3 separate regions of the Homo sapiens genome follow, and all the other regions are linked to region 3. The links come from fine-mapping of genetic effects on gene expression. A gene starts in region 3. Each other region holds a variant in brackets. All regions are shown on one strand. Distances are from middle to middle. Region 1 overlaps OR52I2 (olfactory receptor family 52 subfamily I member 2). Region 2 has its middle 12 kb from the start of C11orf40. Region 3 holds the start of TRIM68 (tripartite motif containing 68).

Evidence for each region. PIP is the estimated chance that this variant, and not a neighbour inherited with it, causes the effect.
Region 1: its variant is the best candidate, but not a certain one, in a credible set for the expression of TRIM68 in whole blood (INTERVAL, PIP 0.53).
Region 2: its variant is the best candidate, but not a certain one, in a credible set for the expression of TRIM68 in subcutaneous fat (TwinsUK, PIP 0.55).

What each region holds. Positions count from the first base shown.
Region 1 is chr11:4,581,846-4,584,610 of GRCh38, forward strand. OR52I2 (olfactory receptor family 52 subfamily I member 2) reads left to right here. Exons shown (of 2, transcript NM_001405760.1): 1 at 1-19. Among named protein-coding and RNA genes, the nearest start is that of OR52I2, 1.5 kb to the left of the region's middle. The variant A/G (reference allele first, on the strand shown) is at 1,342.
Region 2 is chr11:4,564,762-4,567,526 of GRCh38, forward strand. No RefSeq gene overlaps it. Among named protein-coding and RNA genes, the nearest start is that of C11orf40, 12 kb to the right of the region's middle. The variant C/T (reference allele first, on the strand shown) is at 1,052.
Region 3 is chr11:4,606,896-4,609,660 of GRCh38, forward strand. TRIM68 (tripartite motif containing 68) reads right to left here and starts at 1,336. Exons shown (of 7, transcript NM_018073.8): 1 at 1,132-1,336. RefSeq lists silencers at 901-980, 1,291-1,500.

The DNA of each region.
Region 1 (2,765 bases), 25 kb before region 3:
TAGAGAAGATTCCAAGGATGTAGGTAACTGACCTGGGAATCAGGTGTTGGGCTGATAGAGATCGAATGTTGGGCTGATGACCTGACATCAAGGCTGGGTCACCCCAGAATGAAAGTTATAAGGCCTCATGCCTCCCATATAGGGCTGTCTAGGTCTGGTGGTATATCTGCTATCAAGACCTTATGGAAATGATGTTTGGATGAGGGAGGTGGAGAGGGAACGGAAATATGGTTACTTTGCTTCAAAGCAGAGACAGGAAAGGGTAAGTCCAATTTTGAGCTGGTGGAGTAACAGTTTTCAGGGACCAAGAGAAGTTATAAGAAAATAATCCAAGCAATAGGGGTGACTGGGAGTATGCTTGGTTGGACAGTGGAGGTACTCAGGAAAAGGCACAGGGTTGTCATAAAGGGAAAGGCTCTACTCAAATGAGTTATGCATTAGTTCTTTTACCTTTAAGACAATTTCAACTTGAATTATGTACTTCCCACTCTTTTAATAGAAATGAAAAATCCTCACAGGTCTTGTGCTTTGTGAATCATGAGTTATTGACATTAAGAAACTTTTTATTTTTATATTTATTTATTTTTCATTTTTTTTTTTTTTTTTTTTTTGAGATGGTGTCTCCATTCTGTCATACAGGCTGGAGTGCAGTGGCATGATCTTGGCTCACTGCAGCCTCCACCTTCCAGATTCAAGCAATTTTCATGCCTCAGCCTCCTGAGTAGCTGGGACTACAGGTGCTCGCCACCATGCCCAGCTAATTTTTTGTATTTTTAGTAGAGACGGGGTTTTGCCATGTTGTCCAGGCTGAACTCCTGAGCTCAGACAATCCTACCACCTCGGCCTCCCAAAGTGCTGGGATTACAGGCTGAGCCACCATGTCCGGTCGAACTTTTTAAAGCTACTTTTCGGTGATTGGCCCTCCAGATCTGCACGTGAATGTTTCCACAGGATTAAAAACAAAGGCAGGTGCAGTGCTAGAAATATGTCTTAGGAGAACTTGGACAGAGCATTCTGAAAACAGTATGCCTTACCAGCCTGAGAGCAATAGTATGTATATCTTGATTTGTTCCTACATAGGTGTGTTCATGTGTTCACATTGTAATTATTCATCTAACTGAACATTTGAGATTTGTGCATTTTCCAGCATGTCCATAATGGCTCAAAAACAAAACCAGAAAGTGAAGGAACAGGCAGTTGTGTGAGATGTTTTGGTAAAACAGGAAGAAAAAGAGTCACTGGCAACAGATCCTTGATGGAGATGACATTTGATCTTAGCCAAGAAATTTTCAGTAGCAATACATTGAGTAAAATAAATATTTTAAAAAGAAACAGCCAACA[A/G]AATCAAATATCCTGTTCTTTGAAAAGATTACTAACAATTAAATCTCTAGCAGTGCTAATTAAGAAGAAAAGTAAATGAAGAATTAAAAAAAAACCCACCACTCTCGAAGGCATGAAAGGTATGCCCAGTTAGTTTCCAGGGCTGGTGAGAGGAGGGATGAGGCAAGCATCAGCTGAGGCTGCCTCCTGAAGAAAGGTGAATTTACACAGGGCAGCCAGGGTAGGAATATCCTGGATCAGAGGTGAGTGGGGAAGAGGCTGTTTGGATCCTCAAGCTTTCTGCAGCCCTTTATGCAATAATGCACAAGCCTAAGTTTGTGGCATTCAGAACACATGCGGCAGTTTCAAGCATATCCTGAATTTTCTTTCACTCTTTACTACCATTCTACTTCAAAAGCTTTCCCTAATCTTCTTGTGATCCATCACTTAAGATGTCTCGCCCAGTGTCCCAGCAGTTTACAGTGAGCTCCTATAAACTGACTGTGATGTGGAGCTCACTACTCTATTCAATCTGTTCCATGATATAGCATTTCTTAAACTCAGGGATTTTCTTCTTGTTGTAGGTTTATTTCTTTTATACAGACCACAGTTTGTAATCATGTCCAAGAATTTTGGCTTTTTAGAAAACAACTGAGGACTCCTATCACAGCTGTTGTTGGCACCTGGGTGTGGAGTCAATCAGTGCTAGGCTTTCTAGGAGGTTAATTGAAGGGGCAAATATATGTCTTTTGGTTAGGATTAAGAACCTGGTAAATGTTCCTCTAGTGCTTGGCTAACAGAGAAAATGTCTACTGCAGTAGATGGGATTCTGAGCATAGAATTCCATTAATCTGATCTATTTCATCACTCAGGTAGAAGTGATGCCCCGATGAGAACTTAAAAAGGGGAAACTAGAGACAGTATACAAGGGTAGGGATATGGCAGCTTCTTACTATGGAAACCCTTTATTCAGGAGAGGCACAGGAAGAAATAGACAAAGCAAGCTAGTCTTGAGGCTTGGCAAATAAGCACACATCATTTAAGAGTGCCTGAACACCTAAGACAGTTCTTGGGCTATATATGACTACTGTTACGTCAACACAAATCACACAATTGATGTGGTGAACTACTAGGCTGAGGCCTTGAGAGATACAAATTAGAACCATGAGGGTTTGAGAAAAGAGATCACGTGTCCTTAACATATTCTAGTCCATTCTTGGCATCTGGAGTTCAGGTCTGTGACCAACCTACATGTCCATTTCTCTGGAAGCAAAATGATCTAATGGCAATAGGAAAAAGAGTTGAAGTAGCAATTTAGCCTGAAAAAGAAATATTTGTCATACTTGCCTCCACTCCTTAATCTGAATTCAGTTTGGCAAGAGTTGTTATATGACAGCAGAAGTGGAACCATTCTTAGGCTTTCTTATTAAAGATGGGTTGTAGGC
Region 2 (2,765 bases), 42 kb before region 3:
GGAAACAACAGATGCTGGAGAGGATGTGGAGAAGTAGGAATGCTTTTACACTGTTGGTGGGAGTGTAGATTAGTTCAACCATCATGGAAGACAGTGTGGCAATTCCTCAAGCATCTAGAACCAGAAATACCATTTGACCCAGCAATCCCATTACTGGGTATATACCCAAAGGATGATAAAGTCATTCTACTAGAAAGACACACGCATATGTATGTTTATTGCGGACCTGTTCACAATAGCAAAGACTTGGAAACCACCCAAATGCCCATCAATGATGGACTGGATAAAGAAAATTTGGCACATGTACACCATGGAATACTATGCAGCCATAAAAAATGAGTTCATGTCCTTTGCAGGGACATGGATGAAGCTGGAAACCATCATTCTCAGCAAACTAACAGGAACAGAAAACCAAACGCCTCATGTTCTCATGCATGGGAGTTGAACAATGAGAACACATGGACACAGGGAGAGGAATATCACATACTGGGGCCTGTCGAGGGGTAGGGGGCTAGGGGAGGGAGAGCAGTAGGATGAATACCCAATGCATGGAAGGCATAAAACCTAGATGGGTTGATAGGTGCAGGTTGATGGGTGCAGCAAGCCACCATGGCATATGTATACCTACGTAACATTCTGTACATGTATCCCAGAATTAAAAAAAAAAAAGAAAAACGCCATGTAACCATCACAACACTCAATTTCTCAATGCTTTCCCTTTTTCACTCTAGGGAGGTCAGCTCTAGTGCAGATATAAATCTGAATGACTTGGTGTTAGTCATCTCCTATAGCATTTTGAGTTCAAGGTACAGCCTAAATGCAGAGCAGGTCCCTTGAAGTTTATAGGCATTACATGCGGTTAATACACTTAAAGGGCATGAAAGCACAGCTATAGGAATAAGCTGTTAACTTCTCTGGACTAGTAGATTGACAGTTACAATCCAGCTTGATTTTCTCCATTAGGAGCTTATTTTTATGTTAATCCTAGTTATGGATACAGAACTCAATACTTCTGGCTTTAAGGCTTTTATTCTGAACTGCTCCTTTCTCC[C/T]CTTCCCAATTCTTGGACTCAGAACAAGTGGGAGGATATAAGAAATGTGACTAAGTGCTTGACCTTTGCTGGGACAAAACTGGATAGTTCTGGGTTCTTCGAGAAATACTCAAGTTTTCACATTTATCTTAACTCAGGAAATTCAGTCTTTCGGTCACTCAGCTGAATTTCTAGTTGTGTGGATAGTTTGTGTGGAGGCCCCACTGTGTTCCCTAAGGCTACTCTACCCCCTACTCCAGAGCCACTCTTGGCAGATGTTCATTATTTTATGGCTCTTACCTAAAAGGAAAATGTCAGCCCAAAACTAAGGCTTCGAGATTAGGACAGTTATAGCTAATGGTCTTTTCCCATCCTTAGTGACAGTGCTGAACTTTTAATTCATACATGAGATTGAAGGAAACCAGATTATGTTACCCCAAAATATGCCTCAACATAAGAAGTTTGAACTAAAGCAATTAAGCAGCAAACAGGAGAGCTCTTTCCTCCCCACTTTCTGCCTAAAAATAGGCTATCAGTCTACAAACCTTACTCCATTATAGTTTCTTCTCAGGTATTTACCATTCCAGTTTCCTGCCTTTGGAAGCCTAAAGGTCACTTTGTTTTGTTGTTTCTCTACAAGTATATTTTTTTATTTTTTTGCGGTGGGGGGCGGGGGAGGGGGGGAGTAGGGGGGCATGCTGGAGATGCTACATAAGCCTAAAGGTCTAAGCCTAGGGTTATCTTTTGAAGTTTTGGCCTTGTGATATGCACGACAGGACACATTAATAAACTTGTTTTCTTGATAAATCTGTTCACTGTTACAGGAGTCTGTCCCAACCATGACCTTACCAGGGTTGAGAAATTTTCTTCTCCAGTGAAACATAGCTTCCTACTCAGACTGCAACCTCTATGCCTTGAGTCCTATTGAATAACTTTGGCTAAAAGCTTAGCGTTTTACAAGTAGATTCATTTACCTCAAAAAAAAAAAAAAAAAGTCAGTATTCGTCTGTAATACAGAATCCATTACACAAATGCCACAAACATGGACGAATCTTAGAAGGGCCTATTAGAATCAAAGTTGAACATACAGGGTTAAGAGCAGCTTTTAAAGACTGAGTTCTAAGCATCCCCAAAACTTTCTAGGTGTGAGGTTTGTGGCAAACTAGCGTAACTGCTAGCTCCTTTTTACCAAGGTCAGTCTGAGAAGTACCACCTGTACAAAAACACAAATTAGACTTCGAAGAAGGCTGGGCTGAAGAGTAATGGTAAGTTTTTGAGGTGTAGCCTTGGCCAGAAACAGGAGATATTCAAGCACAGCTATGGGAAGATGCAATAGAAAGCAAACTGAGAGTTTGGGCCTTGTTAGTCGCCTGCATTGCCTTGGAACAAACAGTGCCTAGTTAACACTTGCATGAACTCAGAGCCCTGGTTCGTATGTCCCCAGAAATACATTCAGGGCAGCAGGGAAGCCCTGTGCTCATGAAAGCCATGAAAAGCAGGTAGAGAGTGACTTTAGGCAATAGTGCTCCCACCATTTTTTCATATTCTCAGCACTGGTTACTTATTCATGAAGAATTCTTCTTAGATCTGCTTCTCCCTAGGGGCCATAGGTTTCATTTTGCAGGGAGGGAAGGTTTGCTATTCATTTTTATTTTATTATTTTTTTAAGACGGTTTTGCTCTTGTTGCCCAGGCTGGAATGCAATGGCACAATCTCAACTCACTGCAGCCTCTGC
Region 3 (2,765 bases):
GCCATTGGCAGGGCATGCCTTCTCACTAGACTCCCTGCCTCCTGCTTTTCTTCCTCCCACTATCACTACCAAACTGTGGGATCCAGTATCCTAAAACCTCATTTTGGTAAATCACTAACTTACTAAATAATCTATCCTGGCTCCCGGTTAACAAGATCTCTCCTTGAAACAGCACCTGTGCCCAGCTAGGCAAAGGAATAAACTTCCACACACTCCCGCAAACCCCTCGTCCATTCAATCTACCTGACTTGGGTGCCTGCTATTCTCCCAGCTGAAAATGACTTCTACATGATCCTGCCTTTGACGTCATTTGCCATGTATTCGTCTATTGTCTTACTTCCCATACTAGAACTTTTTCATGTGGATAGGGTCATTGTCTGTTTTGTCCATTTCTATTTCCCCAGTGCCAAGAACAGTGCCTCAAATACTTGTTGAATACGTGAAAACTAAATGTAAATGTTGAGTTCCAACCGATAGTAGATTGAAAGTGGAGGATGTGTTAATATCCTTAGCTAAGTCAGTAGAGACATTAAGAGACACCATCTAAAGTCAATAAAACAATAAATGGAAGTTGATACCCATTATTTAAAGCTACAAATGGAAGACCTAAAATAGCGATGGAAAATTGACAAGATTGTGGCAGTAAGAAAGTAAGGCAAAGAAATATCAAAATGATAAATCCAGAAATACAGTGGAACGCATATTATTTTGATTTAGGGTGCTAAAAACATCTAAATGGGGACAAACTAAAAGTGGCAGCCTCTGCAAAGATCTGGGGATGGGTAGTTACTGCTCTTCAAAATAAGACCTGCTTTAATGTTTGACTTTTTATTATACATGAATTACTTTGAGAAAATTCAAATAATTAAACGTTCGGTTGCTTTGACTGTGCCTTCCGTAGGGTACAGCGAGAGTCTGAGAAGGGCATTTGAGAAGGGGGCGGGGCCTGGAAGACTTCCAGTTAGGACCCCAGCGGGAAGGGAGTCGAGGGGCGGGCGGTAACCTCCGGAGTCAGGGAGCAGCTCCTGGCCTGGCCACAGGGCGTTGGGCAGGTCCCCAGGACAGCGGGCGGGTGGGGGTAAAGTGAGCGTGCGGGATCTGACTTCAGAAAAGGCAGAGTTATCTACCCACCTCCCTCCTCGGCCCGGACTGGCGCTTCGCGGCGGAAACTCAAAGTGAAGAAGCCTGGTTCCGCAGCGTCCAATGGCCCAGCGTCAGAAGCTGCCGTTCCCGGCAGCTCAGCACTTAGGGCCAGAGAGCGGCAGAGGCCCAGAACCCAAAGCCCGGCAGCGCAGGCCCAGTAGCCCGCAGCTCCCAGAATACTACACCCGGCTCTAGGCCCCGCTCGCGGGACGGCAGCCAATGAGCGGCCGGCTGGGCCCAGGTTGGCTTCGCCCAGGGGGCGGTGTGTTTGTGGGGGCAGCCAATCACAGGCAGGGACCAGGGTACCCCTAGCCAATTGGTGATGAGACGGGGGTTTCGGCGCTTCTAGGCATGTCAATGTTTTTTCTCTACTTCCTGGGTTTTTCTGGTCCCTTCACCGACTCAGATTCCCTTAAACTGTAGAGGGTTCTAGGAGTTAGTTCTAGGATAGGTCAAAGGATTGAGGCTCCCAAATGATGCCGCTCAGGCACTGCATTAAGAGAGGCTCAGGTGGCTATTCATTTGCCAGTTTGACTTGTTAAACTCAGAAGCCTGAGATTGGCCAAGTCTGGTTCTGTGACCCATCTTAGCAAAGGGTTGGGCGCACATATGGTGTGGACTCTGCTGTTCCTGGCAAGATTCGCGACCTCTCATGGTTCCAGGCTTTAAATACTGGGTTCTTAAACAAAACAAAACAAAACAAAACAAAACCCTCTCTTTTTTCGTTTTTACTTCAGCAACCAGCTTGTCATCACTATTGCCACAATCCACTTTTAGAGTGAAAAACAGACAACAGAGACCGGGAGTTGATGGAGAAATGGAAACCCTGGTCAAAAATTGTCATTAAAAAAGGAAAAAAAAATTAAACAACTGGTATCCCTTCCTCACCCAAACACATAGACACATGCACGCACACACAAAAACTGTTACTTAAGACAGTGATATGGGTTTTTCTTTGTACTCCCAGGGCCTTGTCCTTCTCTTGACACTTAGGTTTTAATAAGCAAGTGAAGGCACCTCCTATCCGCATAGAAAATAACCAGGAAATCTTCCAATTGAAGCTCGGTTCCAAATTATATAATATCTTAATTGTTAGGACAGATACTCCAGAATGCTCATGCCAGTGTCTGAGCCCCGGCCATGGTTAAAATTCTGAAGGGTGAGGCCCAGAAATTTCCTGCAACAAATAGGTCTATGAGAAAAAACAAAAGTATCTTAGGTCTGAGCTGTACCCTCTGTCTCACCCAGTTTTGGAGAAATGGCTGCTCTAATAGAATAATGAATGGATTAATTGAAATAAGCCATTTTAAACATTTATTTAACATCAATTTTCTTGACAATATTTTACTGGGTGCTGGGATTACAACTATGGGACATATAGTCTCTGCCTTTAAGGAGCTGAAGGTCAAGTTGGTTGTACTGCTCTGGAATCTCTGTGAAGTTAAAACAGTTAATGGGGAGATCATTTTCATGTGTAAGGTGCAATTTGTAACTATGACGGACTGTCAAGAACCCTGGCAATCAGGGTAGCTGGGGGTGGGGGCTTGCGTTCATGTGGGGAAGGCTGGAGAGAGGGCTTTTGAAGACAGACCAGTTTACTTCCAAGGCATAGAAGCTTTCCT